2 separate regions of the Homo sapiens genome follow, and region 2 is linked to region 1. The links come from fine-mapping of genetic effects on plasma protein levels. A gene starts in region 1. The other region holds a variant in brackets. All regions are shown on one strand. Distances are from middle to middle. Region 1 holds the start of HIP1R (huntingtin interacting protein 1 related). Region 2 has its middle 1.9 kb from the start of CCDC62.

What was found. PIP is the posterior inclusion probability: the model's chance that the variant is causal. Protein levels are from antibody-based Olink assays in UK Biobank. Linkage for the fine-mapping came from a reference panel and not from the study's own genotypes, which makes the PIPs less certain.
Region 2: its variant is fine-mapped to the plasma level of the HIP1R protein (UK Biobank, PIP above 0.99).

What each region holds. Positions count from the first base shown.
Region 1 is chr12:122,833,986-122,837,002 of GRCh38, reverse strand. It overlaps HIP1R (huntingtin interacting protein 1 related), which reads right to left and starts at 1,546. Exons shown (of 32, transcript NM_003959.3): 1 at 1,360-1,546. The coding sequence starts at 1,452. LOC124903040 (a long non-coding RNA gene) reads left to right here and starts at 1,770. Exons shown (of 2, transcript XR_007063501.1): 1 at 1,770-1,829; 2 at 2,165-2,448. RefSeq lists silencers at 1,035-1,234, 1,405-1,644 and an enhancer at 1,895-1,944.
Region 2 is chr12:122,771,401-122,773,900 of GRCh38, reverse strand. No RefSeq gene overlaps it. Among named protein-coding and RNA genes, the nearest start is that of CCDC62, 1.9 kb to the left of the region's middle. The variant CAAACAAAA/A (reference allele first, on the strand shown) is at 1,006.

The sequences.
Region 1 (3,017 bases):
AAATGACGGGCTATCCGGGCTGAACCAGTTGATGGTGATGAAGATCACAAGGCTAAATTGGTAATTTGCAGCCACCTGGGTTCCAGCACTTCGCATTTCTAAAGCCTTGATATCCTCAGGATTTATTATCGCTTTCTGGGTCAATCCCAAGCACAAAGGTTAGAAGGTCTCCCTGCGTTCTCTCTCATTTCAAAACGAAAGCTGTTGTAGAGTGCGTGTGCTAACTAGATGTGAAGGCAACCGCAGAAGTCATAGCTCTCTGCAAGGACAAGTGGGACGGAACTTGCAAATAGCCGCCACAAACGCAAATGTCACCAACCTGCTTTAGACAGGAGTGGGAGGGGTCCTCTGGCTTCCTTTATCTCTAGAGTAAAATTTTTCAGCCATTTCAGTCTTGGTTGACTTATTTTGGCAAATAAACAAGTATGCCCCCCTCCACCGCCCATCCCCCAAGCCTGAGAGCACTTCAAGAGTTTGTAAAATAAAAAGCAACAGGAAACCAGAAACGCAGCAACGTCTGCATCGTGGGTCCCCGGCACAAACACAAGTACAAAACGCACACCCGCGCCCTTATTTCATTTCTAACGCCTTCCCAGGATAGGCATCATCTGGAAGAGTTACAAGCGTGGGAGGCGCAGGAAGGGAGCCCCAGGAAGTTTCTGTCTGTCGGGCGCCGGTATTTAATGAGGGGGTGTGCACCTATTTATACGTGGGCAGCGCTCGGGCAAACAAGTCTGGCGACATACGAGAAGCTTTTCACCCAGCAAATAATAGGAGACTGTGCAGCCCTGGGAAACCGCTCACGAGAGAAGGAAGCTGGGAGTTTAAGGAATTTCCTTTAAGGAAATTGCCCGTGGGGGCATCGGTTTCAGGGGGTAGGAGACGGGGGCAGGAGCCGGCAAGGAGCGGCACGGAAGGTCGGGGACCCCAGTCGGGCCGCGCCGGCCCCGGGAGCACCTGGATCCCCAGCCCCCTCGACCCCCGGCGCGCTGGGCTCGCGCACACCCAACCCCGGCCCCATCTCCGTCCCCCGCCGCCTCAGCTCCGGCGCTCCCGGCCCGCGCACACCCTGACCCCGGCCCCCTCAGCCCCGGCGCCTCTGGGCCCGAGCGCCCGGCGGGAGCGGGGAGCGCGGCTTCCGGTTCACCTGCGCGCCGGTCGGCTCGGGCCGCGGAGGCCGGCGGGGGGCGGCAGCGGAGCTCTCGGAGAGCCCGGGCGGACACAGGCCCTGCCCCCGCGCCGTCCCCCGCCCCTGGCCGGCGCCTCCCGGGCCCCAGCCGTTCGCGCGTGAGGGGTCAGGGACGCCGCTTGCCCGCCCGCCCGCCGCCGCCCGCCGCCCGCCGCCCGCCGCCCGCTCGCCTGGGTCTTGTCGAACTGCTCGCGCTCGGCCTCCAGGCTGTGGCCCGGCCTGCGGCTCAGCACCCGCGCCGGCACGTTCTTGATGCTGTTCATCCTGCCGCCGCCGCCCGCTTTTGTCCGGCTCCGTCCGCGCGACTCACAGCCTCACGGTCCGGCAGCCCCAGCCTAGGCACCGCGAGGCCACCGCGCCGCGCCCGGGCCCGCCCGCCGGGGAGGAGCCCGCCTCGCCCCGCCCCCAACTCCAGGGCACGCCCCTCCCCCGCACACCTCCAAACCCGCCCCCCGCGCCCGCAAACGCCTCGCCCGCCCCCAACTCCAGGGCGCGCCCCTCCACCCGCACACCTCCAACCCCACCCCCCGCGATCTCGGGACACGCGCCTCTCCCCGCACATCCCCAACCCCCCATCCCGCGGCGACCCCGGCACACGCCCCGCCCCCCGCACACCTCCAACCCCCACCTCACTCACAAGGTTGGGGCACAGGCCAAACGCCCCCCCAGCTCCTCCCCACCTCTAATCCCCTCCCTAAACCCGGAGGGGAGGGTAGGGGAAGGGGGAGGGGGAACCCCTCCCTCCTCCTTCCACCCAGGGTAGGGACCCCAGCCAATTCCCTCTCCCCACCCCTCCTCCGAACTCACTAAGTCTTGTCTGCACCAGGGCAAGATCTGGTTAATTGGAGAAAATCTGGCCTCCATGAGTCTGGTCGGTGGCAGCACAGATAGACGCTTTTTTTCCTTTTTGGTCTTAATGTATGTGTCAAAAGGCACACAATGACACTCTCCCCTCTTTGTGCAATTCTGACATAGCTGCAGCTGTTATCCATGCGGGGATGCAGGATGCATTTCCAGAGACGCCGCCGGCTCCGCAACCGGACACCTCGCCAGCTCCAGGGACAATGGGGGCTGAGGCCGGGCGCTGTTAGGCTGGCACAGAAGGCAGGCGGATCTGAACAGCAAAGTACACCGAGGAGATGCCGCCAGGGGTGGCGTGAGGCTTTTTAAAAACATTATTATTGGCTTTCCCTTAAAATTACTGGTCACAAGACTGAAGTAAAAAAATAAATAAAAGCCCAGAGTCCTCTCTAAGCGTAGCTCTCAGATGGGTATTGTGTTTCTGCTGTTTCCCTTTCCTATCGGAATGCAGATGTGGAATCATGCATAAAGGTCCCTTGCTTTTGAAGGGAGAGGCACCGCCTGCCTGTAAGGAGGAAAATGACGCCCACGTAATCCTGACCCTTGTCTCCCTAGTGAGACTGTAACCTGTCTGAGGTCAGAGACCCTTTCCTTTCCTTTCCTTTCCTTTCCTTTCCCTTTCCCTTTCCTTTCCTTCCTCCTTCTTTTCTTTCTTTTCTCTCTTTCTCTCTCTTCTTTCTTTCTCTTTCTTTCTTTCTTTTCTTTTCTTCTCTTTCTTTCTTTTCTTTTTTTTTAACCGAGCTTCACTCTTGTTGCCTAGGCTGGAGTGCAATGGCACAATCTCACCTCACCGCAACCTCCGCCTCCTGGGTTCAAGCAATTCTCCTGCCTCAGCCTCCCAAATAGCTGGAATTACAGGCATGTGCCACCACGCCTGGCTAATTTTGTATTTTTAGTAGAGACAGAGTTTCTCCGTGTTGGTCAGGCTGGTCTCGAACTCCCGACCTCAGGTGATCCGCCCGCCTCG
Region 2 (2,500 bases), 63 kb after region 1:
GGGAACGGGACTAGGAAAAAATAAGGCTTATCACACTTCAGCCCCGGCTGCCCATCCCTGAATGCTTAACCCATCAGACAGCAACACAATTACTAAATACGGTCGGTCTTACAGGGTTTCAACTTTACTTTTTGGTTGAATATGAAATGCCAAAACATGCCCTTGTGTTCAAAAAATACAATCTGAAAATGGAAAAACAAAATTAAGATTTCTTATTTTGAAGCTTTACTGATAGGCTCATGTTTGGGAGACCAAAGCAATGTCTTAGAATTTAAAATCAAGAAAGCTGGGCGCAGTGGCCTGTAACCCCAGCACTTTGGGAGGCCAATGTAGGAGGATCTGTTGCGTTCAGGAGTTTGAGACCAGCCTGAGCAACATGGTGACACCCACCTCTAAAAAACTTTTTTTTTTTTTTTTTTTGAGATGGAGTCTGGCTCTTGTTGCCTGAGCTGGAGTGCAATGGCACAATCTCGGCTCACTGCAAACTCTGCCTCTGGCCTCAAGCAAATCTCCTGCCTCAGCCTCCCGAGTAGCTGGGATTACAGGTGCCCGCCACCACGCCACCTTTGTTGTATTTTTAGTAGAGATGGGTTTCACTACCTTGGCCAGGCTGGTCGCGAACTCCTGACCTCAGTTGACCCACCCACTTCAGCCTCCCAAAGTGCTGGGATTACAGGTGTGAGCTACCGCACCTGGCCAAAAAATAAATTTTTTTTTAAACTGGGCGTGGTGGTGCACTCCTGTGGTCTCAGCTACTCACGAGGCTGACTTGAGCTGGGAGATGGCGGCTCCAATGAGCTGTGATCATGCCACTGCATTCCAGTCCGATCGAGAGTGAGACCTTGACTCAAAAAAACAAAAATCAGGCCAGACGTGGTGGCTCACGCCTGTAATCCCAGCACTTTGAGAGGCCGAGGAGGATGGATCATGAGATTAGAAGTTTGAGACCAGCCTAGCCAATACAACGAAACCCTGTCTCTACTAAAAATCAAACAAACAAACAAA[CAAACAAAA/A]ACTAGCCACGTGTGGTGGTGCGCACCCATAGTCCCAGCTACTCGGAAGGCTGAGGCAGGAGAATCGCTTGAATGCAGGAGATGGAGGTTACAGTGAGCCAAGACTGCGCCACCTCACTCCAGCCTAGGCAATAGAGGGACACTCCGTATCAAAAAAAAAAAAAAACAAAAAAACACCAACCACCACTACCACCAAAACCCAAAACCAAATAGCCAATAAATACAAAAAGGTGGTCTACTTCCCTGATCATTACAGAAATGCAAAAAAATAAAAATAAATAAATAAATCAACAAAGCAAATTCTGGGTGGGTATTTGCTAAAAACAGTCTAGCAGTAGATGACTGCAGTAAGTTGGTGGTGATGAGATGTAAAGGAATGTGGGTTGAATGTCAATTTTTGAAGTGAGGAGTGTTTTAATTCACGTTTCTTAGGTTTCACCATTGTTAAGACTTGATATTTTTCTAGAAAGTCCTCGAGTGCCATTGTTCACCAGGCAACCATGTGTGACACTCAAGTAAAAATACATGTACAGGCTGGGTGTGGTGGTTCACACCTGTAATCCCAGCACTTTGGGAGGCTGAGGTGGGAGGATAGCTTGAGCTCAGGAGTTTGAGACCAGCCTGGACAACATAGGGAGACCCCCCATCTCTATAAAAAATTTAAAAATTAGCTGGGTATGGTGGCATGTGCCTGTGGTCTCAGCCACTCCAGAAGCTGAAGTGGGAGGATCACTTGAGGCTGGGAGATCAAGGCTGCAGTGAGCTGTGATCATGCCACTGCGTTCCAGCCTGGGCAACAGAGCGAGACTCTGTCTCAAAAATGAATAAAATTGTGTGTATCTAGAATAGTAAGAAATTAGGCTCATTTTGATTATGGTTCATAAATAGTAACTGAGTATAGTAAGAGGATTATGATGGCAAGGTACAAATTAAAAATCTCAAGTTTTTACCTTCGCTCCCCACAGGTTTTCATTAAAACAACAACAACAAAAAAAATTAAAGAGAATACATAACTTTAAAAATATGACAGAGGTGAAAGCTACAAGAATTACACTGCATCTGATTTTATACTCACACAGTCTAATCCAAACTGAAGTTCTGAATGAACTTTTCCCAGTCTCCCTATTTGATTTCCTAGGTAAAGGAATTTAGTAAATAATGAGAACAGGGAACTAAAAGGTAAAATTCATCTTTAAAACAGTAATTTATCAACTTTTAAACTAAGAGTGAGAAAGCTACCACAGACTGGCTTTTATGTAGTAATAAAAAGTTTAAAATCACTTACTGTCAGCATCTGTTTTTAAAAAATGAAATACTTACCAAACTATATGCAAAAAGTATTTGCATTAAAAGTTGCCAGCTTAATCATGGAAAATCTCTTATAAGGCTGCTTAAAGGTTCATGTTTTTTACTAAAAATGGTAGACTGTGAGAATGTGTAAAGTCAATTTTTGAACTACTAGTACTTTTTTTTTTTTTTTTTGGAGA